Regions from separate parts of the Homo sapiens genome. Here region 2 is linked to region 1. Evidence: fine-mapped expression QTL. A gene starts in region 1. The other region holds a variant in brackets. All regions are shown on one strand. Distances are from middle to middle.

Region 1 (16,713 bases):
TTTACATATTGATATATCATATGCATATATATACAATTTAATATTTATGTAGAGATACTCTGTTATGCGAAATTGAATCATATTTAACAATTCTATACATTTTGCTTTTCTCACCTAACAATCCTGTAGAAATCCCTACACACATCTACCCAAAGTCAATTGGCAGAGTTCTCATTCATTATTTTTAATGGCTGCATGACATTTCTCACAAAACCACCAAATATAACATAATAGATATGACACAGACTATGAATTTTCACCCAATATCTCTTCTCTTCTTTGTAGGAATAGACTCCTGATTTTATTCTGGAGTGTAATGTGCCCAGATAAGCAAATCCATTCCCCAGAATTCTTTTTTTTTCCTTTTCTTTTTGAGACGGAGTCTCGCTCTGTTGCCTATGGTGGAGTGCAGTGGCACAATCTTGGCTCACTGCAGCCTCCACCTCCTGGGTTCAAGCGATTCTCCTGCCTCAGCCTTCTAAGTAGCTGGGATTACAGGCATAGGCCACCATGCCCGGCTAATTTTTGTATATTTAAGTAGGGACCGGGTTTCACTATGCTGGCCAGGCTGGCCAGGCTGGTCTCGAACTCCTGACCTCAAATGGTCCGCTCACCTTGGCCTCCCAAAGTGCTGGGATTACAGGCGTGAGCCACAGCAGCCAGCCCATTCCCCAGCATTCTGTGCAGTTAGGTAGAACCACAGGATTAAGTTCTAGCCAAAGATATGTAAGTGTAAGTGTTGCATGGAATTCTGGGAAGCCGGCTTAAAGGAAGTCAACTTAGCTTGGCAGTGGGCACTTTTGTGTTTTATATCTCCTTCCTTCCTACTCCCTGGAATTTGGATGTGATAGCTTTAACTCCAGCAACCGATTTTAGACCATGAGGTAATTTTGAGAATGGAGGTCATTCACTTAACACTGGCAAAGCAGATAAGAGGAGCTTGGATCGCTCGCAACTGTGAAAGTGTCTTTCCAAACATAGACTTTCTACTTCTGGATTTCTTTTACATGAGAAGAAAAATAAACTTCTACCTTGGTTTTAAAAAAAAGTTATCATAAGTTTATTTTATATGTAGCCAAACTCAATGCTAAATGATAGAGGAAGTTAAAACTACTTGCCAGAATTAGATAATTTTATATGAACAAATATGTTTGATGAGACCTTGATGTTAGCTGATGTCAGTCAATACAATTGCCCTTCCTTTGAACAGGTTCAAAATACTAGTTTATATGTTTCCTCTAAAAGGTGGAAAGTCTTCCAAGTTAAATAAACCAAATCTTTCTTTACATACTATAGAAACTGTCTTGACATTTGTTTCTCTTGAAAGTATAAACAATTTGATTTGAATTTGGTGTGTCAGTGGGATATATCTCCTGTTGAGAAAAGTTAGTTAAATATGAAGAGCCCCAGCTGCTTGGGTAAGGAACATCAAGGAAATGTTAGTGTCATCCAGTTGTCAGTTAAAGAAAGCAAGCGGAATTCATGTATATAGGTCCTGCCAGTATCAGTGAGCTCTTCTTTCAGGTCAAATGACAAAGGAGAAGCTGTCTCTTAGAAAAAGATTTCAAGAGATTTCTGTTTCTCGAGGATATTTCTAAACTAGACAGTAAACAGGAAGTGCCCATCATCAGTTATCAGATGACTATTGTCGGATCACTATAAAATTAGACTAGCAAGTTTGCTTTCTGTAATAATTTATTTGGATGAAATCATACTTAGAACAAATACTACCATGTTAGGTAAATTGAAAGAAATTTATTATTTCTCTAACAGATGTATGTATGTATGTATGTATTTATTTTTTTGAGACAGAGTCTCACTCTGTTGCCCAGGCTGGAGTGCAGTGGTGCAATCTCGCCTCACTGCAACCTCTGCCTCCCGGGTTCACGCGATTCTCTTGCCTCAGCCTCCTGAGTAGCTGGGATTACAGGTGCCCACCACCACGCCTGGCTGATTTTTGTATTTTTAGTAGAAACAGGTTTTCACCATGTTGTCCAGGCTGGTCTCAAACTCCTGACCTCAAGAGATCTGCCCACCTTGGCCTCCTAAAGTGCTGGGATTACAGGTGTGAGCCACCTCACCCAGCCCGTCTCTAACAGATTTAAATAGTGCTCTCCATTGGCATTTTACTACAAAATGTTTAATGGCATTAATTTAAATGGTGAAAATAAAAACTGGTAGAGCAGAGCAAAAAGTTAAGAAATAGTACCAGTGGCAAACATGTTTTACTGTAATGCAAAGCAAACTGCCATTTGAAATTTAATTATTATTCAAACTGATAGAGAAGTTCACACTAAATGGGTCTTTCATTTTAATCTATCAAAGCACTTTAGAAGATTAATGAATCTTTATAAAATTACTCTAGGTAACCAAATATTATTACTGTTACTTAAAGAAGTTTAAAGATTGGAAATTATGTCAGATTACAGCTTTAAAAGGATTTTCTAAAAAACACTATTTATATTTAACAAAATGTTGAAGCCAACTCTTTCACTCATGGTTTTGTATATATTTTTAAGCAGCAGGAGGACTCAGGGCAGAAACTGAACTCCTGGTGGCAAGAAATTAAACATGCTTTCAATAATCCAGTAGAATATTATTTCAAAGTCTAGTATTTATAATTGAATTACACCAATATGAAGTATTAATTACATGATATTATACAAAATAAAAGTCACTCTTACAATCCTCTCAAATTTTTTTTTACTGCAAGATTACTTTGTTTAAATATTAGTTGGTAAGTGATGAATCAAAATACTGGGATGAAAAGTCCAATGTCATTTTAAAAATTATTATTATTTTAGCAAACATACAGAAAATGACCACATGCTAATTCTTATGTGTAAATGAATATTATTTTCTTTTTATTGGCTCCAACTTTATACTCTCTGTAGTTTCTTTCATAACACTGAACAAATTACCTAGCTCTTCAAAGTATAACCTCCCATAGTCTTATTTCACATTTGTAGACAAAAGGAGGCCTATGACTTAAATTGATCTCAATGAGGCTAATGAGCAAGATCTTTTTTCTATGACTGGGGGAGAGGTTTCCTTAAAATAAACAAAACAAAAAGTGTATTGTTTCAATTGCTACTGTGAGCTTGAGATTATAGTGGTAGCCAGTCTTTGGTCAGAACCCAAACATGGCAGGAGACAGAGTCCAGAGAGTCATGAAGTAATGAAACTGTAGTCTTTATGCTGCTTCACTTGGAGTATGCCCTTCTCTAGACATCCAGATCCATGATAGCATATATTTCCCTCTTGTTTAAAATAATTTAAATTGGCAGGCTGAGCATGGTGGCTCGCACCCATAATCCTAGCCCTTTGGGAAACCAAGGTAGGAGGATCACTTGAGCCCAGGAGTTCGAGGCCAGCCTGAGCAACATTGTGGAACTGGTTATCTACAAAAAGTACAAAAATTATTCAAGTGTGGTGCTGTGTGCCTGGAGTCCCAGCTACTCGAGAGGCTGAGGTGGGAAGTTCACCTGAGCCTGGGGAGGTTGAGGCTGCTGTGAGCTGAGATCGTGCCATTACACTCCAGCCTGGGCAACAAAGTAAGACACGGCAAGCATGTGCGTGTGTGCGCGCGCACACGCACACACACACATACACAAACACACCCCACACATCTTTTGGCTCATCTGAATATAGAACGAGCCAGGTGAACCCCGAAATGTATACTCTCTGTTGTAAGTTAGCACTCTCTATCGTAATAAAATGACATTTAACAACATTTAGGGGCTCATCTTTGGTGTCCTGACTCATTTTACTGCATTGAAAGGGGTTTAAGTGTCTTAGCCAAGTGAGGGAAAGCAGCTCCAATACTGGGTAGTTCTGAGGCATGGAATGGTCACAGCCTGACTTTTACTGGGCAGTGTTTTTCTAGTGGGTAGAGTTATTATGCCACAAAAGCTGAACTAGTTAGACTGTTTATTTTTTATTTGCTCACTCAGGTGTGACAGGCTATCCTCTGCTTCCTGTCCCCAGGCAGTAATCACACATGGGCAGCGCCCACAGCTTAGTTTGGAAGGCCCTCATCAGCCTCTCTCTTTTTGCCTGTAACTAAATTAGAAATATTTCCAGCAATTGGAGAAGTATGCTAAAAACATTAGTTTCTGTGACAAAGAGAATGAAGAACATCTTGTTGCGAATACAAGATAAATTTATTTCATACAATAAATAAATATCCACAATGAAATTAATACCCACAATATTGAACTTCCTTATGGGAGGCCAGAAAGACAACTTAATGGTTGTGACCAACCATCTTTAAGTGATTAAATACATTCAGTTTCTGCTACAATCTGTTATTTACTTTCTTATGCATACTTCAGGTTTATTTTGTTCTTTTTTGTCTAGGATGTTAGAGAGCTTAGATGATGGATTTGACACATTTCCTTTTTCTAATGTAGGCAGTTAGCTATAAACTTCTTTCTCAGCACTGATGTATCTGTGCCCCACACATTTTAATATTTTATATTTTCATATTCATCTAGTTCAATTTGTGTGTATGTTTTAAAATTTTCCTGGAGACTTCCTCTTTGATCTGTGGATTAATATTATTAGAAGTATGTTGTTTAGTTTCCAAATATTCAGAAAATTTTGTTATCCTATGTTTTAATTCCTTCTTTAAATCTATTGTGATTTGAGAACATACTATGAATAATTTCAACTCAGAAATTATTTAATTTGTTGAGGTTTAAACTTGCTGAGGTTTGTTTATGGTTCAGGATATGACCTGTATATTCCATGGACACTTCAAAAAAGTGTGTATTTTCTACTTTGAGTGTTCCATAAATGCTGATTTGATCCTGTTGGTTGATGGTATTGTTGAGTTCCTTATATCCTATTGATTTTCTCCATAGTTGTTTTATCCATTGTTGAGAGAGGGAGTTGACATCTCCAACTATAATTATGGATTTGCCCATTTTTTCCTTTCAGCTCTATGAGATTTTTCTTCACATAGGTTCTGATTTCTGTTGGGGCATACACATTGAGAATTCTCATGTGTTCTTTGTGATTGATCATTTTATCATTATTTGATGTCTCCTTCTGTCTCTGATTATTTTCTTTTCTCTGAATTTTGCCTTATTTGATATTAATATAGCCACTCCTGCTTTCTTTTGATTAGTGGTTACATGATATATTTTTCCATCGTTTTACTTTCTTTGTACTTATATTACTATGTTTGAAGTGAGTTTCTTATAGATAGCCTATGGATAGATCATGTTTTTATCCGTTTATTCATTCATCCAATTGTTTTCCTTTAATTGGTATATTTAAAACATTTATATTGGCTAGGTGCGGTGGCTCACGCCTATAATCCCAGCACTTTGGGAAGCTGAGGCGGGCGGATCACCTGAGGTGAGGCGTTCGAAACCAGCCTGGCCAACATGGCAAAACCCCGTCTTTACTAAAAATACAAAAATTAGCTGGACAGGGTGGTGGGTGCCTGAAATCCTAGCTACTCAAGAGGCTGAGGCGAGAGAATCGCTTGAACCTGGGAGGCGGAGGTTGCAGTGAGCCAAGATCACACCATTGCACTCCAGCCTGGGTGACACAGGGAGACTCTGTCTCAAAAAAAAAAAAAAAATTAACATAACTATTAATATATTTGGGCTTAAGATTGCCATTTAAGTTATTTTTTATTCATTCTCTCTGTTTTCATTTCTCTCTTTTCTTTTTCTTCATTCTTCTGGGTTATTTGAACATTTTAAATAATATATTGATTTATTTACATTATTTTGAGTGTATCTCTTTGTAAAGCTTGGATGAGGTCACCATAAAAGAGAACAAAAATAGGGGAAAGAAGATGTTCAAAGTCTAAATTTGGTGCTCTTCAATATTTAAAGGTTGAAAAGGGGTAGAAAAATCAGCAATGGGAACTGAGAATAAAGGAGGTAGCCAGTGAGATAGGAATGAAATTAGGAACCGAAGTGACGGAAATGTCAATGCTTCTGGGCCCTTTCTTGTCAAGGTGATCATATTGATTTCTAATTCAAATTCTTCATATTCTCTGGCCCTCTCTCTCTCTCTCTCTCAGTTGTACCTCTTACATCTAGTGTATTTCATAAAGAGGGCCCACATGAACTGTCTCAGGACAGATGAAAATAACCCATTGTAGTATGTTTAGCACACGTGGCTGCAAAACCTTAGTTGGATATTTTCAAGGACAAAAAAATTGCAAAATATTTTAAACTTTACTTTGTAGTTTTACTGCTATGAGGATATTGGTATTGTAATTCTGAAACAAAACTGTGTTATGTATGTTGTAGGATAAAGCAATAAATAAATGTATTATTGTTTATAAGTAGCCTCACTGTTTTCTAATGCTCATCATTCCAGCTACCTAGTGGTAGGCAAAAACCTCCAGTCTGGTTCTTCCATGCGAGATTTTCTTTCTTCTTTTTGTGAATGTTCTGTTACCAATTTCTAGTGTAATTTTACCAGGATCAACCTTTAAAACCTCTAAATTTGTGGACTTTCTGTGTGACCTAGGGTTTGGTGTATTTTAATAAATATTTCATATACACTTGAAATGAGTGGATATTAACTTTTCATTTTGTAGTGTTAAGAATTTGTAACATGTAACTATTTCTCCTCCCAGATTGAAATATAACACCAGATCCCAATGACAAAACAACAAAAAACTTCAGGGCAGGATATGCCGTTTATTGATTTAATTATTTCATCAGTTCTGTATACATATTTATTGAATAAACATTTCAAAAATAAGGGATAGGAAAAAAGTCATTTGGAAGTAGAAAAGAATGTTTCAAATTACTTATCTAAAATGGCTTCTTACAGTTGTCATATATTCTTTTAAGGACTTGAGATGTGTATTTCAGAGTAATGTGTCATAAATCAGCGTGATTTTTAGAAAATATATTCTGTATCATCCTTCAACAATACCTCAGATAACTTCTTTGGTACTTTACTCAGGTAAATCTCTACATGAAGCTAATAGCAAAAGGCTACTATTTCTGGTAATTCTGATAAAAGTTTCTATGTCTTAATTTCTATATAATCTAAGTGGTTACAAGCAGCTATCTAAAATTACGTAAAACAAGCTGTGCAATACTGGCTCATCGCTAATTAACAGAATAATGTCGGACAAATCACTTATCAGTTTTCTAATATGCATAATGCGAGTTAGTACAGCACTTCATTGCAAGATCAGAAATGAAAGCATTTTTACATAAGAGACACTACAGAAATAATGCGAACTGTAATGCTATTATGACGGTTTGCCTAGTGGTGAATGATTAAACATTTAAAAAGTTTACTTTCATCTTAGATCATTCCATCGGAAAGAGGTCGAAAATGTACAGTAGGCATGCACAAAGGATACCGCCTGGAAAGAAGGTAAAACTGGAAAACAGGAGGGAGGCGGGGCCCAATTTTGGCTTCTCCTTCCGTCTCCGCCCCTCGAACGCCGGCCTGCGAGTGACGTCACGCGAGACTTGTACTTCCGCTTCCGGTAACTCACGTTTCTCTTTCTTCCTGTCTGCTTGGAAAGATGGCGTCCCGCAAGGAAGGTACCGGCTCTACTGCCACCTCTTCCAGCTCCACCGCCGGCGCAGCAGGGAAAGGCAAAGGCAAAGGCGGCTCGGGAGATTCAGCCGTGAAGCAAGTGCAGATAGATGGCCTTGTGAGTGCTGTTCTTTTTCCTCTGGCCCACGTGGGGAGCGCAGTTCCCAGCCCCGTCCCACCAGACGTACTTTCTAGCATTCTCCCCCTTGGGCTTGGTGTGGCTGGGCCAAAGTTTTTCCCTAGTACGTTTCTCTTTCATCTTCACTTTTTGTTCAGGAGCTTCGACAGCCTTCTCTTGTCTTCTAACGGGACAGTTGGGGCTTCAGGAAGGGGACTGAGAATAGGGGTGTGAGTGACAGGTTCCTGGGGTCTTGTTTTGAGATGACCGGTGGGGGGATTTGAAGAAAGACTCCTGGAGACCAGCAGCTAACGAAGGTGTCGAGAAGGATTTAGGGACCTAGTAGGGCTCTGGGAAGGAGAGAGTAAGGAAACTCCACTGATTCCCTGCTGGGATCTGACATCTATAACGTTCCAAGTGGAGATGTACTTTGTAGCCACTCTTTTGAGCCTGTACTTCGGCGCTTTATCTGAAACCGTATAATTTAGAATACTCTTTTGTAGTGTTCATTCTGAAAAACATAAAAGAATATCAAAGAGAAGGGCCTTAAATGTATTTAGTAGTTAAGGTTCATGAACTAGGACATCCAAGGAAATTCTTGATAAGGAAATGGACTTAGCTGGGAAGAGGAAAATCTAGAATGAGAAATTTTATTTCTGTTGTTTCGAAGCAAAATGCATTTATATGACGTTCTAGTTTTAAAAGTATCCTTCCTGCCCTCTTTTTAAAAAGCATCCTCTCTTCCTTTGATTTTTTTAAAGGTTATTTCCTATTAATGCAGATCTTAGATATTTGTAATAAGAAAGTACTTTTAAATTCATGTGAAAATTGTAATTGCAAGCAGGTATTTTTAAGTGGAAACTGTTGATAATTTAAACGCAGCATATAATTGAATCTGTTGAACTGACTTAGTTAAACTGGATACAAGAGTGTAGCCTGGTGGTTAAGAGCTCATTCAGTCTTCTAGGCTCTTCCACTTAACCAGCTCTGTGACTTTAAGGCAAGTTAGCCTTTCCAGGCTTTGCTTTCCTCATCTGTCAAGTGGGAATGAGAAGTATCTGTATCATAGAGTTGTTTGGATTAAATGAAAAAGTTTATGTGGTGACCTGTAGTACAGTGTAATCACTTAATGTTAATTATGATTATTATTATGAGTTTAATGTCTGTGGTTAGCAGAGTTTGAAAGATGCAGGCAAGAGATTAACTTTGGAATGTTTTGTTCTAAATGTCACTTGTGTAATACTTTGAAAATGCAGGCCGGGCGTGGTGGCTCACGGCTGTAATCCCAGCACTTTGGGAGGCCGAGGCGGGCGGATCAGGAGGTCAGGAGTTCGAGACCAGCCTGACCAACATGGTGAAACCCCGTCTCTACTAAAAACACAAAATTAGCCGGGCATGTTGGCACGCGCCTGTAATCTCAGCTACTCAGGAGGCTGAGGCGGGAGAATCGCTTGAACCTGGGAGGCGGAGGTTGCAGTGAGCCGAGATTGTGCCACTGCACTCCAGCCTGGGCAATAGAGCGAGCCTCCGTCCAAAAAAAAAAAAGAAAATGGAGTACTATCTGGCCTGTGTACTGGCACTGTGGCTTTCCCTGGCTCATGGGAGGCAGATGTGTGTTCAGGAATAAATGACGTATCTTTAGAGATTGCAAATCTCTAAAGTTAGTGGGTGGACTTAGATTACACTTGTTAAAATAAGTACCACTTATGCACTTGGGAAATGTTTATTTCTTAGAAACATATTTCTTATTAAATTTGCTATGTCACAACAGCACTCTTTGAATCACTTAGTTTCCAGAGTTGAAAAAGGCAACAGGTCGGTGGCATAAATCTATTTGGAGATCATTTATTTAGCAAATATTTTAGGACATTCTGTTAAGTGCCAAATACTATCTAACACAGGGCAGTGGTAAAAGCACTTCAGTAACAATGTCCTGGCAGCTTTAAGAGGGATTGTTGAATTAAACAGAGACCTGCAGGTGGAGATGGACTGGATCACTTCAGGTTTCACAAGGGTGCTTAGTCAAGAGACTGGTTCTCAATTTTTTGGACTCAGAAATTATTATTTTTTATCAGCTCTCTCAGAATTGATTAATGCTAAGGAACCAATTAGTCCTTCTCACAGGAGATTGGTTTATATACATGTAAATGTTGATTTACTCATTTACTGTGGAAGACATACCTTTTCAGTGGTGAAAACGCTCATATCTACCACCAAAAAGACCCTTTTGATTACCAAAGCACCTTGGAAATCGAATAAAAAAAATCAGAAGCTTACCAGTGACTCCAAAATCAATCATAATAAGAGCAGGTAAAGGATTATTTTACTTGAGAGTTATTTATATCCAGATTCTTGACGAACTTAGTGAATTATCTCTTATTCACGGTGGTGGGTACCTCTGTGCTTTTGTTCTCCATCGGTTGGGTAGATATTAACAAAATAAGTTCCTAACAACTTTCCCCCTTTTTGGACATCTGCCTTTCTGTCATTTATATGGTTTTAGGCAGCTAGATTATATTGCAGTTGCAAGGTTCTTTTATCTTGGTTGCTCATTTTTTAATGGTGAATGTTTTCCAGTTACCATAAATCATGTAGGGAACATTTAAATGGTATGTTCTTTATGCGTTTTACATTGTTAATACAGGGAATACTGGTTACTCTAAATTTTATTAATGGATTATTGCAGATGGAGTAACCAAGAATCATCCATCTTGAATACTATCTCCACATGGATGATAGGTATACCCACGTTTGCCCAGATACAATTTAAAAAAAACTCCTTCCTTAAACTCTTCTCTTCTCTCTCTCTTTTTTCTTTTCTTTTCTCTCTCTCTTTCCTTCCTTCCTTCCTTCCTTCCTTCCTTCCTTCCCTCCCTCCCTCCCTCCCTCCCTCCCTCCCTCCCTCCCTCCCTCTTTCTTTCTTTCTTTCTCTTCTTTCTTTCTTTCTTTCTTTCTTTCTTTCTTTCTTTCTTTCTTTCTTTCTTTCTTTCTTTCTTTCTTCATTTCTGTCTTGATGAACAGTGTTACTCTTAGGAAAGCAATATTACATACTAGCCAAGAGAATCTTGACGACAGACTTGGATTCAGATCCTTATTCCAGCAGTAAGCATGACCTTGGGGAAGTTATTAAATTTTCTAGGCCTCAGGTGTATCCTTTGTAAAATGGGGATGATGATAAAGTAGTAACTCATAAGGGTTGTGAGAATGAAATTCCGAGGTATTTAAAGTGTTTAGTATAGTACCTGTGTCATCGTAAACACTCAGATTACTGTGTCTTTACCACTCTCATCCTTATTAATGTTTCTCAAATCATTTCGAATGCTAACTTTGCTAATGTAGATTGGAATTGTAGAAAGAGCACTTCAGTGCTCCTGGTAATCAGGAGACATGCATTCCAGTCTGCATCCACCAGTAACTAACAACACTTCTATGATTGTTTTACTCCAAAGGTACATTTTCTCATCCACAAAATGATTGCCACTATCCCTATCAATTTTCATGGTTTATGGTTTCTTTCTTTTGCTTTCATACCTGAATCCTGAGGGTTCTTATTGGTGTGTGACCCCAGTCAATCACTATCCTTCCTTTTAGGCCACTTACTCCTTTCCTTTTATGTTTCTTCTCCATCTGTGCATATTGGAGTGCCTCATGGTTTAGGTTTTGGCTTTTCTTTTAGTCTCTGCTTGACATAGGTAGTGTAACGAAGTTGATAAAAGTACATGCTCTGGAGCCAGACTGCTTGGATTTGAATCCCAGCTCTGAAATTTGCTGCATGACATTGGGCAAGTCTTTGTGCCTCATTTTCCTCATCTGAATTGTTTTGAGACTTTAAATGGATTGAATATATGTCAATAACTAGAACAATGTCTGGGACAGAATAAGTCACCATTTAAGCTTTGCTGCTGCTTTATTTGCAGTAATTATAGTAGTATTCTTTAAGGTATTCTTATCTGTGCTCACGGCTTTAAATATTTATATTCTAATAAGTCCTAGATTTATATTTCTGCCAGTAATGGCTCTTGAATGCCTCTTTTGAATACCCATTGCCTGTTTGACGTCACTATTTGGATATCTCATAGGCATCTCATATTTAACATGTACAAAATAGAATTATAGACTTGTTCTTCTCCTTACTTTCCATCACAGCACCCTATATTTCTAGAATTTTCCACAGCCTGTAACTATCTTGTTTGTTTTCTTCTTTGTTTTCCTCATCAGAATGTATGCTACTGAGGGCAGGGACTATGCTTTTTCACCTGTTTTATCTCCAGTGCTGAACCTGTTAATTCACAAAGTAGGATAAATGAATGAGTATGTATTCCATTTTATTATTTATACTAATTTATGTTCTAATATCTTATGCAGGTTATTTTAATATTGTTTTCCCCTGCCTTCTTCAGTCTACCATTCATACTTTTATTTTATTTTATTTTATTTTATTTTATTTTTTTTTTGAGACGGAGTCTCGCTCTGTCGCCCAGGCTGGAGTGCAGTGGCGCAATCTCGGCTCACTGCAAGCTCCGCCTCCCGGGTTCACGCCATTCTCCTGCCTCAGCCTCCCAAGTAGCTGGGACTACAGGCGCCTGCCACTACGCCCGGCTAATTTTTTGTATTTTTAGTAGAGACGGGGTTTCACCGTTTTAGCCGGGATGGTCTCGATCTCCTGACCTCGTGATCCGCCCGCCTCGGCCTCCCAAAGTGCTGGGATTACAGGCGTGAGCCACCGTGCCCGGCCTCATACTTTTATTAAAACGTTTATTTAACGTGAACATTCAGATTTTAACTTCTTTCCTTAGATGTTTTCAGTGACTTTCCATTGAATTGAAGGACCAAAATGTTGTCCTTGTTTCTTGCATTTATGTTCAGGTTTATTTCCTTTCTTTCCAAGCTTTGTAGGAACTGTACATTCCAGCCCCTCAGACTACTTAGTTTTTTCTTTAATAAGTCATGCTAAAGGCCAGGTGTGGTGGCTCACGCCTGTAATCCCAGCACTTTGGGAGGCCAAGGCAGGCAGATCACACGAGGTCAGGAGATCAAGACCGTCCTGGCTAACATGGTGAAACCCTGTCTCTACTAAAAATACAAAAAATTAGTCGGGCGTGGTGGCGGGTGCCTGTAGTCCCAGCTACTCAGGAGGCTGAGGCAGGGGAATGGCATGAACCGGGGAGGCGGAGCTTGCAGTGAGCCGAGATTGCACCACTGCACTCCAGATTGGGCGACAGAGCGAGACTCCGTCTCAGAAAAAAAAAAAAAAAAAAAAAAGTCATGCTAAAGACAGACCTAGAGTCACATCCTTATTCAAAGCAGTAAGCATGACCTTGCTTTTGTTCATGAAGTTCTTTCTCTTTGAAATTGTTCTCTTTCATCATCACATATTGAATAAAAAATGTGACTTAATCGACTTACTCTGTTTTTTTAAAAATTCTCCATATAGTTTAACTTGAATCTGTATACTCCAGATGTATTCTGTTCTTCATTCATTTAACAAATATTTATTGATTGCCGACCACATGCCAGGTCTAGCCCTGCTACATGCTGGGGTATATTGCAGTAACCTATATAAGATATTATATAGGTGAGCAAGGTAGAACCCAGTCCCGACTCTCATGACCATTCTCAGTCATATATAGATGTAGATGAACCCAGAGATTAATCTCATCCTATGTTTAGCCTGATGTTTTAACACATTTGTTCCTTCCTGGCACATTGATAGTGGCCAAGACCAATTTTTCTTGTATTTTTGAACCCTTCCTTTCCTACCTTTAGACCTGTTTCATCACTTCCTCTGTATCTGTAATGTAGCAGTCCCTCCACAGGGCTTGTTTTCCAAAGAAAAGTAAGCCCTCCACAGGGCTTGTTTTCCAAAGAAAAGTATCATTTGGAGGAGCAAAGTTATAAGCCTACCTAAGCATGTCGTAAAGCTGTTCAAAAATAACTCAGAGCTAGTCTTGTGGATGGAAATGTAGTGCCTGAGTCACATTCTGCTTAAAGTTGTAACAAATACAGATGAGTTAAAAGAAAAAAAACAAAAATAAAGAAAGAATGGGTCTTCATTCTGTCAGGTGGTCTCATTGTTCCTAGACAAGATCAAGCTAATTCTTCCCGTTAAACTTTTCATGTTGAACCCACTTTGTTCCCTAGAACATTTGAATTTTACCTTTCTTATGTTCATTAGACCTTGCTATTCAAAGTATGATCCATGTCCAGTAAGATGAGCAATGTTGGCTACACTTGAGTTTGTTAGAAATGCAGACATACGTATCACAGAATCTCAGGCCCCTCTCCTGACCTACACAATCAGGTGATTTATAGCATTTTACTGTTTGAGAAGAAGCTTGCTCTCTTCCTTTCTCTGAGCTTTTTAATGACAGCTTGTATCATTCACCTTGGTATGTGATCCATACTGTTAGTGATTTACTGTTAATATATTTTCCCCTTCTCATTGAGATGATAACCCTTTTGAAGGCTGAAGTATAAAACATTTGTCTCCTCCATAATTCAGTGCTTGAAACCCATTGCTATTGAAATTTCTTACCTTTTAAATTTTGTTTTCCCCTTTAAGTTATCTTATTAGATACCTTATTCCCCTGGTTTTGTAAGTAAGGTAGAGTATGTTATTAATAAATAGAAAAGTATGAGTTACATATACAGTCAGCTCTCTATATCTTTGGATTCTGAATCCAGCAATCTCACATCCATGGATTCAACCAACCATGGATCGAAAATACTAGGAAAAAAACAACTAAAAATACAAATAAAAACCAATACAGTATAATAATTATTTACATAGCATTTACATTGTATTAAATGTTATATGCAATCTAGGGATGATATATAGGAAGATGTGCCTAGGTTATATGCAATAACTAATGCTACACCATTTTATATAAAGGACTTGAGCATCTGCGAATTTTGGTATCCAGTTTGGTCCTTGTTTCTGTCTGAAACTCTTTTTACTTGTTGCTTATTTCTTCACACTAGAATATCAGCTTCCTGAAAGTGGCACCCATGTCAGGTTTGTTCACTACAGTATTTCTAAGGGTCTAGAACAGTACCTCGTGTATAGAAGGCACTCAGATGTTGTGAATGAATGAATATACTCCTGTTGTGTGGAAATTTTCTTGAAAATCAATCATGAAGAAACTGGGTTAGTAAATGCTTGAGTGTTGGTGAGAAAAGAGCACACAGTTGAGGATAAGCTAGTTAGCTTTCTGGGCTTGTTCATATTTCTCCATCTTTTTATTTGTTGATTTCTTATCTGTTTGAAAAATCACTAATATTAATTGGACACCTATTATAAGACCCTGTACAGGGATGTTTGGTTAAATTTTGTGTTGTTTGGTTAAATTTTTTGTTAAATTTTAGATGTTGTGATCCTCACAACAGCTTTGGGGATAAATGTTATCACTACCTTACCTACCTGATGGTTATTCAAATCTAATGGAAAAATTTTGGTGGAAGTACTTTGTTTTTTATTTTGTTTTGTTTTGTTTTTGTTTTTTTTTTTGTTTTTGAGACAGAGTTTTGCTCTTGTTGCCCAGGCTGGAGTGCAATGGCATGATCTTGGCCCACTGCAACCTCTGCCTCCCAGGTTCAAGTGGATCTTGGCTCACTGCAACCTCCGCCTCCCAGGTTCAAGCGATTCTCGTGTCTCAGCCTCCCAAGTAGCTGGGATTACAGGCATGCGCCACCACGCCTGGCTAATTTTTTGTATTTATAGTAGAGACGGGGTTTCACCATGTTGGTCAGGATGGTCTCGAACTCCTGGTCTCAGGTGACCCACCCACCTTGGCCTCCCAAAATGTTGGGATTACAGGTGTGAGCCACCGCAGCAGGCTGGTGGGAATGCTTTGTGAGTTGAATCAAATACTTCGAATTTGTAATGCCAGGCTATCACATGTGTCACTGTAGATTTTTTGTGATACTCTTATGAATTTAAAGAGACTGGACAACAGCTTGTTTAAATTCCATTGAAATGGAAGCTCTTCTCTGAGATCCTGGTCTGAAGTATAATACAGTTTGGCCTTTTAATGTTTTAACAACAAAAAAAATTATATGACCCTTGGCCTCTTCTTCCAGTTTTCTGACTTGAGTGGTGCATACGTAAGTTGTTTGACATGTGAGATAATTTTTTCAGTCAGATAATTTGAAATCCTTTCAAGCACCAAAACTTGCACATTTTAGCTATTTTAATTATATGTGTTTCTGAAGTGTAATACATAATTTTCTGCTGCTTTAGTCAGAGAACATGGAACACAATCTAACCATGTTTTGATGGCATAGTATTATCATTAAGAACATGTTATTGGGCCGTGCTCCCGCCTGTAATCCCAGCACTTTGGCAGGCTGAGGTGGGCGGATCACCTGAGGTCAGGAGTTCGAGACCAACCTGGCCAACATGGCGAAACCCCATCTCTACTAAAAATACAAAAGAAATTAGCCGGGCATGATGGCGGATGCCTGTAATCCCAGTTACTCAGGAGGCTGAGGCAGGAGAACTGCTTGAACCTGGGAGGCAGAGGTTGCAGTGAGCCGAGATCACACCACTGCACTCCAACCTGGACGACAGGCAGAGACTCTGTCTCAAAAAAAACAAAAAAACAAAAAAACATGTTATTGAACCAGACAGGACAGTAGATCTGTCAAGAAATCCCTTCGGGTAGTCTGTTATTTCTATAATAAATGTCCCCTGTTGTTGAACTTTAGGTGCCTTGAGTGGTTTATGTTTCTAGTTGGTGCCTTTTTTGGTTGTTAAATTTATCTGTTTCTTATCCCCTTGCTTTTCAGGTTTTTTTTTGCTGTGAGTGAAAAACCAGTTATGCAGGATTATCTCTAACCTGAGTATTTGTGAGTGAGGATTAAATTCGTTATGCAGTCTGACATTTTGATTGCTTAGTTATATTTTTTGCTTAGGCAAGTAAGATGTTATTGCTTACAAATAGTAACTTTTTATAATAGAAAAATCATTTAGCGTACATTATTATATCTTGGTAGCTCCAGGAACTGGGCGGACTAGTATTATCTGGATTATACATGTGATTCTCCCACTCCAAGAAGCTGGG
Region 2 (16,713 bases), 48 kb before region 1:
ATCACGAGGTCAGGAGATCAAGACCATCCTGGCCAACATGGTGAAACCCCGTCTCTACTAAAAATACAAAAATTAGCTGGGCGTGATGGTGGGCGCCTGTAATCCCAGCTGAGGCAAGAGAATCACTTGAATGAAGGAGTCAGAAGTTGCACTGAGCAGAGATGGCATCACTGCACTCCAGCCTGGTGACAGAGTGAGACTTCGTCTCAAAAAAAAAAAAAAAAAAAAAAAAAAAAGTGAACTCCCAATTTTAATTTGGGAAAAAAGAGCTTCTTTTTTTTTTTTTTTTTGCAGGATGCCTATTTAGTCCTATTTCTTCATCAACGGGAACTTGGAAAAGCTGTGATTTTATGTGTGGCCTAAAAAGGGCAGAAATTCCACTCAGTTGAGGGTTTATAGAGAATTTATTTTCACAACCGCTCCCAGAACTTTCACGTTCACTACATCAACACCTGTGGGGTGGGTATTAGGCTCATCACCAGGATAAGGAAATGAAGGCATGGAGGGCTTCAACAAATCCATGATGGAGCAGACCCTGTGGTCTTATATTATTAGGTCAGTGTGATACTGGGCCAGACATGTCCAGTTATGTCACTAAAGCTCCAGAATGACAGGCTGTCTCATGCAAAAAATACCCCGAGATGGGACCTCATTTCCTGAAAGACTCCTCGGTACCTCTGCCAAATACACTCTCACTCACTTTAACACTTGAGCAGGCTGTGGAAACGGCTGAGTTGTTCCATCCCATTCACCTCATTGAACACTTAGTGTGTTCCCTGAGAGCCTGCTGTGCACAGGGCATAATGTGATTTCTGTAAACAGAGAAGAGTGTGGTGGACCCTGACAGACATAGATGATGCACCAAAGACCATGAAAAATTCCTGGTAACATTGCTGGACTCAGTAGAGATGGTGTTCTTGAGGAGATATTTAAGGATAAGGGAAATTTTAAGAATTAAAAAACGAGGATGTTTATAGTGCTTTGATGATCATATTAGAAGTAAAATAAAAAAGTTTTTAAAATAAAAATGTTTTGGCCAGGTGCAATGGGTCATGCCTGTAATCCCAACACTCTGGGAGGCCAAGACAGGCAGATCACTGGAACTCAGGCATTCAAGACCAGCCTGGGCAACATGGCAAAATCCCATTTGTATAAACAATACAAAAATTAGCTGGGTGTGGTGGCACGCCCCTGTGGTCCCACCTACTCGGGAGGCTGAGGTGAGAGGATTGCTTGAACCTGGAAAATCAAGGCTGCAGTGAGCCATAATCACACCACTGCACTGCAGCCTAAGCGACAGAGCAAGATCCTGTCATTAAAAAAAAAAAAAAATCAAATTAAAATGAAAGAAACTAAAGTTTGTATTAGAAGTAAAAAGCTACTAAGGGTTAAAATGTTCCTGGAAGTGGGAAGCAGAGAAATCAAACATACGCATTTCGTGTTTGTAATGTTTTTCTCTCCTTTGCTTTCCTACCAGGACCACCCAGACTCATCCATCCTTAAAATGTGGGATTTCAACTTCCAAGACAAATCAACCAAGTTTCGTGGTTGATTTTAAAAACAATATTTCCTGAATTGCTACTTCACCAATGTGGTGTATTAAATCATAATCACTGTCAATGGCCAGAACCCCAAGCCTGGAATAGCAATGCCAGCTCCAGCCTGGGAGCACTGCCTTTGAAGGATTTTAGGTTCTCAGGAGATTTGGTTTCCCTGCAGTGTGGTGTTGGCTTCCAAACCAGGAGGCAGCTGGCAGTGCCACTGCTGCCCAGGAACTAGAAATCCACCATGAAATCTGAGGGACTCTGCGGCAGAGGGTTTTATTCTTTATGGTGTCTTAATATTGATCAAAAAACCCACTTCTTTTTGACATGATAAAGAAAACCCATCCTTCCAGCAAAAGGGCTGAGTAGTAGAAGAAACAGATCAAAAGACACGGTAAAAGGCAACTTCAGTTCTGTCCTCCCAGAGAGCCAGGGACCTGCTCTGAGCACCAAAATCCTTCATTTATTCATTCAATAAAATTTGTTGAGCAAGCTGGGTGCAGTGGCATGCACCTGTAGTCCCAGTTATTTGGTATGCTAAGGCGAGAAGATGGTTTAAGCCCAGGAGTTTGAGTTCAGCCTGGGCAACATAGCAAGAACTCATCTCTTTACAAAAAATAAAATAAAATAAAACATGTTTAAGCCTCTGCAACAACTTGGGCCCTGTACTAAGTCTTGGAAACACAAAGGTGTCTAAAACATGGTGAGTGCCCTGAAGACTCACAGCCTATGAGTGAAGAAAGATTGGAAAGAGATTGAGTACAATATAATCTGCAGGGTGTGACAGCAGAGGACTGAACCAAAGTGATGGAGACAAAGAGGGGGAAGTGACTTATTATTAGCTGCCATTGTTACCAGGTTTGAGACAGCAGGACTGTCTCTACTTTCCTGAAACCACCTGTGAAGACAGGATTTTGAGACAGCAGGACTGTCTCTACCCTCCCGAGGCTACCCGTGAAGACAGGATAATGAGCAGTTAGATCTCACAGTTCACACTAACTCAGAAAACAAGCCAGTCAGAATTAGCAAGAAGTTTGCATTGAGAATATTTCCTAGGCAATTTCTTTTTCTAACTCGTGAATACGTACAATGATTCAAACAACTTGCCAGAACTGATTTTCAGCAGAAATTGTTTCGGTACAACGTTTGATGGGCACAGGAGGTTCTGGGAATGGTGAAAATTTCTCACTATATTATTATATCTAGTTTTAGTTATCATATCAGCTTCTTAATCTCAGCACTGAGTAACCCGATGTTCCTCAACCAGTCCAGCATGTGACTATATGCTGGGTTAACCTGAGTCTCTTTTAGATAATACAATACTGATTGATGTTCAGGCTATATCCAGACCATTTGGATCAGAATCTCTGGAGAATGGATAGGCATTGATCATATTTTAAAAGTTCCCCCAAGTTATTCTAATCTGCAGCCAGGGTTGAGAACATACATGCAATTTTCATTCATTAATGTATTTATTTTTGAGATAGGGTCTTGCTGTTGCCCAGGCTGGAGAGCAGTGGCATGATCATAGCTCATTGCAGCCTCAATCTCCAGGGATCAAGTGATCCTTCTGCCTCAGTAGCTGGGCCTCCAGGCAGGTGCCACCATGCCTGGTTAATTTTTAAAAACTTTTTTGTAGAGATGGGGTCTTCCTATGTTGTCTAGGCTGGTCTCGAACTTCTTGCCTCAAACAATCCTCCCACCTCGGCCTCGTAGGTGTGAGCCACTGCACCTGGTGCAGTTTTTAACAATTCATATGTAGTAATCCTTTGCAAATGTTTACTTCTTGGATTGTTGGTGTATTGTAGATTGAATATGACCCAGGATCATATAAGTTTCTTGGTGAATAGTCAAAAGTTTCTAACTGCTTGTCATCAGCTCTGATCGATTTAACACTGATACTGAGAAGCCCAAAATAATATCTTTAGTTTACTATATTATGAAAATTTATAAGCATCACACATGTAAATGTCACAGAAACCCAAAGTACAAATTGTAGCTGTAAGTTTGGCTCCCAAAGGAGGAAGAAGGAAGTTCATATTTATTGGCCTTTTTTTGTGAGCTAAGCACTTTATGTATAATATCTTTTTTAATGGGCAGATTAATCTACCATAGCATTTTTGAAATATTAAGTTATGAAACCACTTTAATGGGTCACAACCAGTATTTCTAAATAAAATGTGATGGAAAAAGAAGCATTAAAAAATATAAGTGCATCAAATTCAGCTATGGGACACACTACTTTATAAAAGCTTTGTTTCAGTTATATAAGTGTGGTTGTATGTATCTAGCATATTACATTGTAATATTAGATATTTCTTAGCTTGCTGCTAAAATATTTGAAAACTACCACCTATAGATACAGTTATTACTAAATCCAATTTATAGATGGATAAACTGAGGCTCAGAGATCTTAAATAATCTACTCAGTGAGCAAATGACAGAACCCCTTTTATTTACCATTTTAATATACCACATTCTCTCCTGGAGAAGGCAAGCCTTACTGATGAATAAATTAAAGACATCTGCAGAGAGGAGACACACACAAATTAATTATTACTGTTTTTTAATAACGCTACTTTTTTGTTTTTTGTTTTTGTTTTTGAGACAGTCTCACTCTGTTGCCCAGGCTGGAGTGCAGTGGCGCACTCTCGCCTCACTGCAACCTCCGTCTCCCGGGTTCAAATGATTTCCCTGCCTCAGCCTCCCAAGTAGCTGGGACCACAGGCATGCACCGCCATGCCCAGCTAATTTTTTATAGATGGGGTTTCACCATGTTGCCCAGGCTGGTCTTGAACTCCTGAGCTCAAATGATCCTCCCACCTCGACCTCCCAAAGTGCTGGGATTACAGATGTGAGCCACCACGCCCGGCCAATAACACTAGTTTAATGACAGTATTGCAACTTCCTAATTTTATTGTTGAGACAACATTTTCCAGACTCACTGATTTATTAACTGTCATAACCCTAGCCACAGTTTGAACTCCAGCTTAAGTTTTCTTTTCACTTTCATCACTTCTCAGCTTGGTAGGAACTCATATGCTGTGGGTTCCCTTCATTGTGATTTCTTCCCTTTGTTATTCCAGACACATCATTTCACAAAGAGGAGCCAGGCCCCCTTCTTGGCTCCCGCCAGCTCCGTGCAAGGTGCAGCCTCCCCAGGGCTAAACCGGCCAGCCCAGGACTCACCTGACTGTCTTGACAGACCCTTATGGCAGAGTGGCTGAGTGGACAGATTTGCACACAAGCATTGCACCTGGACAAACAGGACTCAAACTTGTCTGCTCCAAGGGCAATATTGCTCCACAGGATCATTTTACTGGCTGCATCCTCAGCCATCCAACAGAGAAATTCCTTCTCAACTCAGTGTCTGTAAACCCCAAGAATGCCTCTTGTGAGCAAGACAGACCACAGTGGTTTTGACAATTTGGAAAGACCATTAAAGTGAAAGGTTAGTGATTTTATGTGTGTTTTGTCTTAAGCCTCCTGTTTCTTCAAGACCAACTTTTTTTTTTTAAACTGTGGCTGAGCAGAGCTCTAATCCTGTCCACAAAATCTTTTCTGTCTAATGAGAAACGATCAAGCAAAAGCACCCAAACCCACAAAGTTGGAGGGAAAACCCTCCACCCATATACTCACAGGCCAACAAAGTTTTCATGTGAGAGTAGTTATTGTGGTGGGATCTGAGGAGACTCTTCGAATGAATGAGGAGGTGCACAAAAAGAAGGGGCTATGGTAGAACAGCTCTGCGAGCAGAACTCCCTCTAATTGAGTTGAACTAACAGCCCTGGCTGCTGGGATACTGGGGAGAAGTCCCATTGTCCTCTACTCTGAAGAGGAGCTAGTGACTATCAGTCTTGCCCTCTCTGGGGAAACACTGACTTTGATTAAGGGGAGACAGGACCAGCTACATAATTGTGGGCCAGCACCAAAAAGAAAAAAGAAAAAAAATGTGTGGCCTCTTGTTGAAAAGTGGTGACGGCATGTGATGGTTAATATTGTCAACTTGATCGGATTGAAGGATGCAAAGTATTGTTTTTAGGTGTGTCTGTGAGGGTGTTGCCAGAGGAGATTAACATTTGAGTCAGTGGACTGGGAGAGAAAGACCCACCCTCAATGTGGGTGGGCACCATCCAATCGGCTACTAGCGCTGCTAGAAAAGGCAGGTGGAAGAAGGTGGAATAAGCTGGCTTGTGAGTCTTCTGGCCTTTATCTTTCTCCCATGCTGGATGCTTCCTGCCCTTAACATCAGACACCAGGGCAGGAGTCTTAGACTTACACCAGTGGTTTGCCAGGGGTTCTCTGGCCTTCAGCCACAGACTGAAGGCTGTAATGTCAGCTTCCTCGATTTCAAGGCTTTTGAACTCAGACTAAGCCCCTACTGGCTTCCTTGCTCCCCAGCTTGCAGAGAGCCTATCGTGGGACTTCACCTTGTGATTGTGTGAGTCAATTCTCCTTAACAAACTCCCTTCCATATATACACACGTCGTATTAATCCCTAATACATAGCAGAACATAAAACCCAGCATGTGACCCTGTAAGCCTGCACAAGCCACACACCCATGAAGCCTGCCCCGAGAGGACACAGCATTTTTAGGACCCACACGGGCCCTGTCACCTGGAAGTAGAGTCATTAAACAAAATGAACGCTCCTTCTAATCCCATCCCCTGTAACCATGTGTGCACATTTTTACATAGACACTCTGATTACCGTGTTCCGATATGGTTATATAACTAACATTTAACTAGAATTTACTATATACCAGGCCCTGGACTAATTATTTTACATGCGTTATCTCATTTAATCTTGACAAAAACCCTAGGAAGTGAGAACTCCCGTCATTCCCATTTTGCAGATGAGGAATTTGAGGCTAGGGAGGATACCTTATTTGCCCCATATTTATTTGCTAGAACGAGGCACTCAGCCTGAGTAGGGATGAAATTGAGAGGAGGCAGGAGAGGAACTAGCCATGGGAGAAAAATTTAAGAAGCTGCAAAAAAAAAAAAAAAAACCCTCAGTAATTAAGATAGATACTACTTCAGCGCAATGCTTTAATTAAACAATTTACTTTGAGATTATTGTAGATTCACATGCAATTGTGAGAAATAATACTCCAGGCACCCTTTATGCAGTTTCTTCCAGTAGTAACATACCATATAGTACAATATCACAACTAGGTCATTTGTATTAGTACAGTCAAGATACAGAACATTTCCATCCCATCCACACAAAGATCCCTCATGTTGCCCTTTTATAAATACCCCCAACATTGCTCCCCATACCGCACTTCCCTTCCACCTATGGTCCAAAAGATCCCTAGAGCTCTACCTCCTATCTGGTGTATTAGAAGGTGTAGTCGTCCATTTTCACACTGCTATAAAGAACTGCCTGAGACTGGATAATTTAGGTAGAAAGAAAAAGGTTTAATTGACTCACAGTTCTGCTTGGCTGGAGAGGCCTCAGGAAACTTACAATTGTGGCAGAAGGCAAAGGGGAAGTAAGGACCTTCTTCACGTGGAGGCAAGACAGCGAGCAATGAGGTGAACTGCCAAACACTTTTAAACCATCAGATCTCGTGAGAACTCAGTCACTATCATGAGAACAGCATGAGGGAAACCGCCCCCATGATCTAATCACCTCCTACCAGGTCCCTCCCTCAACACGTGGGGATTACAATTAGAGATGAGATTTAGGTGAGGACAAAGAGCCAAGCCATATCAGAAGGAAAATGCGATGATTTCCATTCTCTGAAACATATCATTGTACCTCTAATGTTATTTCTACTTCTGGTAATGAGACTTATATTTGTTTTACAAGAAAAGCCATTGGAAAACGTTTTGTTAATATGTCAGAGTGACTGTCGCTGTTCCTTAAATCCTTCTCTAGCACCACAGAACCCAGATATAGAGGAATCTATGCCCTTTTTTACTCTGTGACAGTAAGACATATCTGATACCAAGGTCCGTATTTCCTAGTCATATACATGTTACCAATTATTTTATCTGAAGAATATTTTAAAATCATTCTTCTGCAAATTTGCTTAGTGTTTCCTCTACGTGTTACTCAAGGTTGTTTCCCTGGCTAGCAACAGTGTGAAAACTACGTGCTTCTTAAGAGGATGGGAGGGCTGGACACGGTGGCTCACGCCTGTAATCCCAGCACTTTGGGAGGTCGAGGCAGGTGGATCACCTGAGGTCAGGAGTTCAAGAACAGCCTGGCCAACATGGTGAAACCCTGCCTCTACTAAAAATACGAAAAAAAAATCAGCCGGGCTTTCTGGCGGGCACCTGTAATTCCAGCTACTTGGGCGGCTGAGGCAGGAGAATTGCTTGAACCCGGGAGGCAGACGTTGCAGTGAGCCAAGATCGTGCCATTGCACTCCAGCCTGGGTAACAGAGCAAGACTCTGTCTCAACAACAACAACAACAACAAAAAGGTAGGAATCACAACAGTCCCAGATGTAAGTCCCTGCAGGTGATGTTTGTAGAATGGAAAAGAAGCCTCATAGGTAATCAACAAAATGATACCAGATTGTGCTGGCTTCACCCTTGTCCACCCATTTAATTGCAAACACATGGAAGGACAAATCAGCTGACTCTCTGGGGTGAACCAGGCAGGGACAGAGCCTAAACCAGAGAGATACCAGATTTACTTGGCAAGACCATATTTTCCTGAGGTGCTTCAGACAACTTACAGATGACACAGCTGCAGGTCTTGGCTATTCAGATTTAGCTGCCTCATGGTGCAAGAAACTGCTGTGCAGAGGCAATGATCATTTTTATGAGTATGGTTCTCAAAAATCTGTGAAACTATTTGTTTTTGCTCTGTCTTGCTAAACCGCCCTTACCTGTTCCTCTCCTACAACTATAAACCTTGATTGCTGGTCAGTCAACACAGGCTTT[G/T]TCCACATCCACAAAAATCTAAAGACAGAACTAAGGCAATTACTAGAACGGTGCTTCACAAACATCCATGGGCATTCAAGCTGCCTGGGATATTGTTACGATGCAGGCTGTGATTCACTATGTCCTGAGTGGAGCCTGAGTTCCGCATTTCTAACAAGCTGCCAGGCATTGCTGATAGGGACAAGGACCCAGCTCACCAAGACCTGCAATTGAACTCCCTGAGATTAGATTCAGGCCATGATGAAAGAAACTGGGGTTTTTCTTTCTTTCTTTTTTTTTTAAGGGGCTTGGATTGACTTAGTTAAACAAAGGGCTTGTGGTCAGCTAGTGCCTCTCTAGTGGATGAGATCATAACATGTGAGAGGGCATGAAAAGGACATGAAGATGAAGTTTGTCCTGGCACTATTAGAATCCATGGTTGCAGTGGCCCCTGAAGCCCTGCTGAATCCCATGGAGTCTGGTTGTTAACAGTGCATTGGATTGCCAGAGCCAATAACTTCCTTGCTTTGCTTAAGCAGGTTGAATTGGACTCTATCTCTTAGAACCATGATTGCTCCAACGATTGCGTCCAAATTGTGATGCAATGACTTCATAAATTATCATATATCCCTACAGAAGAATTATACAGCTGTCAAAAAGTATTATTTCAAAAAACTTATTCGGATGGACAAATAATACAAGGGTAAATGACAAAGGCATAACATCAATGTATCTATACAGAATAATCTGAATTATATAAATTCGAGAAGAATATTAAGTAAATGCTCCAAAACATAGACAGTAGTTAAGGTCGACTGAATAACCCCCTCCAATATCTCCATATCCTAATCCCTTGAACATATGAATTTTATTTTATATGGCAAAAGAGACTTTGCTGATGTCATTAAATTAAGGACGTTGAGATGGAGAGATTATCCTGGATTACCTGGGTTGGCCCAATATGATCAGACTGGTCTTTATAATAACTCAGGAGAAGGCTCAAGCCTGTAATCCCAGCATTTTGGGAGGCTGAGGCGGGCGGATCATGAGGTCAGGAGATCAAGACCATCCTGGCTAACACAGTGAAACCCCGTTTCTACTAAAAATACAAGAAAAATTAGCCAGGCATGGTGGCAGGCACCTGTAGTCCCAGCTGCTCGGGAGGCTGAGGCAGGAGAATGGCTGAACCCGGGAGGTGGAGCTTGCAGTGAGCCGAGACTGCGCCACTGCACTCTAGCCTGGGCGACAGAGCAAGACTCCGTCTCAAAAAACAAAAAAAAAAAAGAAAACTCAGGAGAAGGCAGAGTTAGAGGAAAAGGGGATATGATGCCAGAAGCAAAATTGAAGATGAGGGAAGGAGGTTACAAAGAAATGTGGGTAGCCCCCAGCAACAAAAAGGCAAGGAAACAGGTTTTCCCTAGGGCCTCTAAAAGGAATGAGCCCTGCCCACACCTTGACTTCAGCCTGGGAAAGTCAATTCAGAATTCTGATCTCCAGAAGAATAAACTTGTGTTATTTAAAGCCATTAAATTTGTGTTAATTTGTTATAGCAGCAATAGGAAACTAACACAATAATTGGCTCTGTACTTCCACTTAATCAACATATGCTACTTTTATAAGAAAAAGGCAACTTAATTTAAAGGAAGGAATAAGTATAGCTTGCTATAAGAGGTATTATGAATAACACTTTTAACAGTTGAATGTAGCTTGGTTGCTGTTGTTTTCTAGGACTGTAGGATATAATCACAGTGTAGTCTAATTTCAACACAGCAAGAGAATGTCACCCTTTAATAATAGAATTCTGATCTCATCACTCCCTTGGGTAAACTCTTGGCTTCTGCTATTAATATCCAACAGGTGACTTAGCAATGTGTATTCACAAGATCAACACCTTTTGATAATTAAAAGGCCCAGTGGCACACTCAAATCACAGAGCACACTGAAGGCAGAACAAGCTCCTGACTCTATTTTGAATTCTCCTTTCTCCTCTCAGTATATTCCCAGCATGGTGGCTTTGGAATCACCAAAAACAAAAGGAAAGTGACATGACTGCTATTTGCCCTAGGAAGTCTAGTGTAATACTAAAAATCTTAAAACTCTAAATGCTGCTCATGAAGCAAACACACAAGGCTGCAGAATCCTGTTGTAACATTCCCAACCCCAGATGGGGTTCCCTGGCCCCACCTCTGAACCCTCAGAGTTGTCTGTGTACATTTTTATCCCATCCTATCATAATTATTTGTTTATGCACCCACTTTCCCAGCTAGACCTTTGGTTTCCTCTAGCGTAGGGGCTGTGTCTTATTCTTCTTTGATTTTCCACCCTAAAACAGTGTCTGGCATAGAGAAGGCATTTAATAAATGTTTGTTGAATTAAATTCAATTGACTCCTGGCCTTAGCAACAGAACTTTAGAGCTCTTACCCAACATAATAAGAATTCAACTTTCTTGATTTTATCTTCAAAGTACTTTGCTAAAGTGGAACGACATGACGTCTTGACCAACTCTTCCCCCAGGCTTTCGGCAAACATGAGATTTCTTCTCGGAAAGACCTGTCAATCTCTGTTCAACTTGGGTTTAGATTTCAAAGGTTAAAATTCGGACAGTGCCCTGGAACTCCAAAAGCATCTACGATGAGTGAGAGCCCCATTCAAGTCCCCTAGTTTCTCTTCCCTAGGTTTGATTCAATCCAGGCCAATATTGGTTAATGCCAGCTCTATCCCTTCCTCCTTAGGATGTTTTGCTAAATGTGTGTGGAGATGTAAAAATGCTATGGAATTCTTGATTCCTTAGGATCTTCTCAAGAAGCTTCTAAAGTGGCTGTATAGAGTTCCTTTAGCATGCCATACTATATAAGCATTTTGGCTTTGAAGTCATATTGATCTGGGTTTAAATTCCAACTGTAACTTTGGTAGCTATGAGACATGTGGTGTGTTATTTTATCTATCTGAACTTCAGTTCCCTTATTTAAAAACTGATGATAAAGTATCTACCTATTGAGATTGTTGTATACTTATATAAATTTGTGTAACATAGAAGGATTCCTGTACATAGAAAGTGCTCAAGAAGTAATGGCTGTTACTATTATGAATAATAATAATTATCCCACACAAGAGTCTCCAGAGAGAATAAGGCCCAATGCTGTATATGCCAAACTACCCTAGATTTAGATTTGGAAGACAGATCGTCCCTGGTATTTTTGCTTTTATATAGCCCCATCTACAGTGAGACCATAAGGAAAAATATGCTCTTCTTAGTCAATAGAACTTCCACCACCAAAGAGAGAAGACTCATCACTAATAAACAAATAACTCAAATATTCCCATTTGGACTAACCTTGTACATATCCATGCAGTTTTTCCTCTTCTTTGGAAATTAACCCATGATTGACCTCTTACCTCCACCCATTCATTTCCAAATATCACTAATATTTTAGGATTGAAGTCTCAAAACACCACAGTTGAGAAACTTCTGTTTTTAACCAAGATGGAATAACAGGGACTAGATTTACTCACCCAGCTGAAATAACAGCAGTATATATAAAATAAGGGTTTTCAAGATATTGAACATCAGCAACAAAGATATGTTTCCTGAGAAGTAAAAAGAAATGAAATGACTTCTACAGTTGCTGTAACTTTCTGCCTAGAGAGAGTTTCCAGGCTACAGAGCATGGAAGGGGAGCCCATCAAACTTCCTGAGACAAAGTTGGAAGTCCAGAGAGATAAGCTGGCTCGTGTTCCCAGGACAGAGTACCAGAGATGAGTGAGCTGCGGAGAGAGAGAACTTGGGAGATCTGCAGAGGGTGCCTGAGTTTTCAGCTGAGTACTGATCAGCTTATATGTAAGGAAACTACCTAAGGATAGGAAAAGAACCATTTGAAAGCATTATAAGGGGCAACACTTGGAATTCAAACAGAGCCCCCCCCACCAAAAAAAATTCCTGTTCCTACCAGCCAGAATGAAGAATATCACAATTTACAGAATGTTGGGTAGGTGCTCCAAAAAAGTGAGGCAGAATTAGCCTCAGACTTAACACAACTGTGATCTCACCTAATAACGTTTAACAGCAAACCTAAAATGATATTGTTTCCAAGTAACTTAACTGCCTAAAAAAATCTCAATATCTATAGGAATAGAAAAGTGTAGCCACCCTACAAGGTACAATTTTCAATGTCTGGCATTTAATTAAAACTTCTAGTCATGCAAATAAACAGGAAAATATAATGAGGAGAAAAACCAGTCGATGGAAACAGACCCATAAATGACACAGATATAGAATTAGTAGAGAAAAACACAAAAACACTTATTGTAATGTATTCCATTGTTCAAGAGCCAGAGAAAAGATGGAGCACATTCAATAAAGACAATGCAAAATTTTTAAAGACCCCAATCAATCATCTAGAAATGAAAACTATAATGTCTGAAATAAAAAAACACAAAGACAAACAATTGAATAAAATTAATAGCTAACTGAACATTGCAAAAGACAAGATTAATAAACTTGAAGGTATAGCAACAGAAATGATCCAAAATGAAACACAAATAGAAAAAACACTGAAAAAAAATAGAGCATCATTGAGCTGTGGGACAATTTCAGGAAACCCAATGTATGTGCCACTGGAGTCCAGCAAAGAAAGGACAGAAGCAGAAAAAAACACGTGAAGAAATAATAGTGGAAAACTTTTCTAATTTGATGAAAACTATAAACTCACAAACCCTAGGCTCAACTAATTCCAAGCTTAAGAAACATGAACAAAACTATACAAGGGTACATTATAATCAAATTGCATCTAACCAGTAATAAAGAAAAAAAAAACCTTAAAAGCATCCAGATGAACAAGACACATTAAATATAGAGGAACAAAAAAAAGAAGACAGAGGTTACATATTGGAAACAATACAAAGCTAGAAGAACGTGAAGCAAAATCTTTAAAATCCTAAAAGATAAAAACTATCACCCTAGAATTCTATACCTAATAAAAATTTGTTTAAAAAATGAAGGGGAACTAGAAATCAGTAACAGGAGAAATGTAGGAAAAATTGAAACTAAAATTAAACAACATGCTCCTGAACAAACAATGGGTCAAAAGAAAAATGAAAAGGAAAAATTTTAAATATCTTTAGAGAAACAAGAATGGAAACAAAACACACCAGAACTTATGGAATATAGCAAAAGCAGTTTTGAGGGGAAATTTATAGCAATAAATGACTTATTAAAAAAAAGAAGAAAGATCTCAAATAAACAGACTAAGGTTACCTCAAGAAACCAGAAAAAGAAAAGCCAGCTAAGCCCAAAGTTAGTAGAAGGAAGAAAATAACAAAGATCAGAGCAGAAATAAACAAAATAGAGACTAGAAAAAAATAGATCAATTTAACTAATAGTTGGTTTTTTGAAAAGAGAAACAAAATGGATAAATCTTTAGCTAGGCTAACTAAAAAAGAGAGAACTCAAGTAACTAAAATTAGAAGTGAAAGAGGGACATTACAACTGATACTGCAGAAAAACAAAAGATCATAAGAAACTACTGTGAACAATTATAAGTCAAAAGACTGGATAGCCTAGAATAAATTGTTAAATTCCCAGAGACATTCAACTTACCAAGACTAAATCATAAAGAAATAGAAAATCTGAATAGATCAATCATGAGTAAGGAGATTTAATCAGTTATATAAAATTTCCCATCACAGATGAGCCCAGGACCAGACGGTTTCATGGCTGAATTCTACAAAACATTTAAAGAATGACTAATACCAGCTGGGCATGGAGGTTCATGTCAGTAATCCCAGGACTTTGGGAGGCCGAGGCCGGTGGATTACCTGAGGTCAGGAGTTCGTGACCAGTCTTACCATCATGGTGAAACCTTGTCTCTACTAAAAATACAGAATTAGCCAGGCATGGTGGCACATGTCTGTAATCCCAGCTACTTGGGAGGCTGAGGCAGGAGAATCACTTTAACCCGGGAGGTGGAGGTTGCCAAGATCATGCCATTGCACCCCAGGCTGGGCAACAGAGTGAAACTCCATCTTGAAAAAAAAAAAAAAAAAAAAAGAATAACTAATACCAATCCTTCTCAAACTCTTTCAAGAAAACTGAAGAAGAAGGAATACTTTCAGATTTCAGACTAATTTTACAAGGCCAGCATTACCCTGATACAAAAGCCAGATAAGAACACTATAAGAAAAGAAAATTATAGGCAAACATCTCTGATGAATATAGATGCAAAAGTTTTCAATGAAATATTGGCAAGTTGACTCAACAGCACTTTAAAAAGATTATTTACCATGATCAAGAGAGATTTATCTCTGGGATATAACTATGGTTCCACATATACAAATCAATAAATGTGATAAATCACATTACTAAAATGGAGGATAAATGCCATATGATCATCTCAATAGATGCAGAAAAATCATTTGACCACGTACAATATCCTTTCATGATAAAAGCTCTCAACAAATTAAACATAGAAGAAATGTACCTCAACACATTAAAGGCAATCTATGACAAGTCCAAAATTAATATCATATTCAATGGTGAAAAGGTGAAAGCTTTTCCTCCAAGATCAGGAAAAAGATGAGGATGCTTACTCTCACAACTTCTATTGAACATAGTCCTAGAAGTTCTCGCCAGAGAAATTAGGTAAGGGAAAGAAAGAAAAGGTGTCCGAATCAGAGAGAAGTTAAATTGCATCTGTTTACAGATGACATAATCTTATATATAAAAAATCCTAAAGACTCAACCAAAAAACTGTTAGAAATAATAAATTCAGTAAAGTTGCAGGATATAAAATCAATATACAAAAATCAACAGTATTTTAATACACTACTAACAACCTATCCAAAAAAGAAATCAAGCAAACAATCCCATTTATGATAGCATAATAAAGCTACAGTAATAAAAAAAAAGAAAGTATAGTACTGGTATCAAGATAGACAAATAGATCAATGAAGCAGAACAAACAGCCCCAAAATTGACCAACACATTTATTTTCAACTGATTTTTTTACAAAGGTGCAAAGGTAACTTGAAGGAGAAAGGATAGTTTTTTCCCAAATGATGCTAGGCAAATTGTATATCAACATGCAAAGCACCACTGTTGATAGATATCGTCATTGAAGTCTTTTCAGTGACAGTTCCATGACTGCTTTTTGGACATTAAGATTGCTGTCTGCCACACCTGCTGGGTCATATATCCACCACCACTGGGGTACCATGAAAGCTTCTAGTTCTCTGCCAAGTGAAGGATTGCCAGTCTTCCTCAGGATTTCCGAAAGAAGCCAAGGGAAGATACAACCACTATAGAAGAGGTTAAAAACTCTAAGCCAAATTTACAGTTAAAAAAACTAACAACCCCATTAAAAAGTAGGCAAAGGATATGAACAGGCACTTCTCAAAAAAAGAGATGCATGCGGCCAACAAACATATGAAATAAAAGCTCAATATCTCTGATAGAGAAATGAAAATCAAAACCACAATGAGATACCATCTCAAGCCAGTCAGAATGGTGATTATTAAAAAGTCAAGAAACAACAGGTGCTGGCAAGGTTGCGGAGAAATAGGAACGCTTTTACACTATTGCTTGGGATGTAAAGTAGTTGAGCCATTGTGGAAGACAATGTGACAATTGCTCAAAGATTTAGAACCAGAAATACCATTTGACCCAGCAATCTCATTTCTGGGTATATACCCAAAGGAACACAAATCATTCTGCTATAAAGATACATGCACACGTATGTTCATTGCAGCATTATTCATAATAGCAAAGACATGGAACCAACCCAAATGCCCATCAATGATAGACTGGATAAAGAAAATGTGGTACATATACACCATGGAAAACTATGCAGCCATAAAAAGGAACAAGATCATGTACTTTGCAGAGACATGGATGAAGCTTCCAGTTGTTCCAGGAAAGGAACAACCAGTACCAGCCACTGCAAGGTTGAGCCATTATCCTCAGCAAATTAATGCAGGAACAGAAAACCAAACACCGCATGTTCTCACTTATAAGTGGGAGCTGGACAATAAGAACACATGGACACAGGGACGGGAACCACATACACTGGGGCCTGTTTTGGGAGTGCAGTGGAGAAGAGCATTAGGGAAAAGAGCTAATGCATGCTGGTCTTAATACCTAGGTGATGGGTTGATAGGTGCAGAAAACCACCATGGCACACATTTACCTATGTAACAAACCTGCACATCCTGCACACGTACCCTGGAACTTAAAAAAACAAAATAAAATAAAGTGGGTATAAATACCACTGCCGAACTGCCTCTGGGCTGCTA

What was found.
Region 2: its variant is fine-mapped to the expression of EIF3H in whole blood (TOPMed, PIP above 0.99).

The regions. Positions count from the first base shown.
Region 1 is chr8:116,746,604-116,763,316 of GRCh38, reverse strand. It overlaps EIF3H (eukaryotic translation initiation factor 3 subunit H), which reads left to right and starts at 7,494. Exons shown (of 8, transcript NM_003756.3): 1 at 7,494-7,651. The coding sequence starts at 7,520. LOC124902006 (a long non-coding RNA gene) reads left to right here and starts at 16,191. Exons shown (of 2, transcript XR_007061066.1): 1 at 16,191-16,713.
Region 2 is chr8:116,794,783-116,811,495 of GRCh38, reverse strand. All of the region lies in intron 2 of LOC112268030 (a long non-coding RNA gene), which reads right to left. Among named protein-coding and RNA genes, the nearest start is that of UTP23, 37 kb to the right of the region's middle. The variant G/T (reference allele first, on the strand shown) is at 8,448.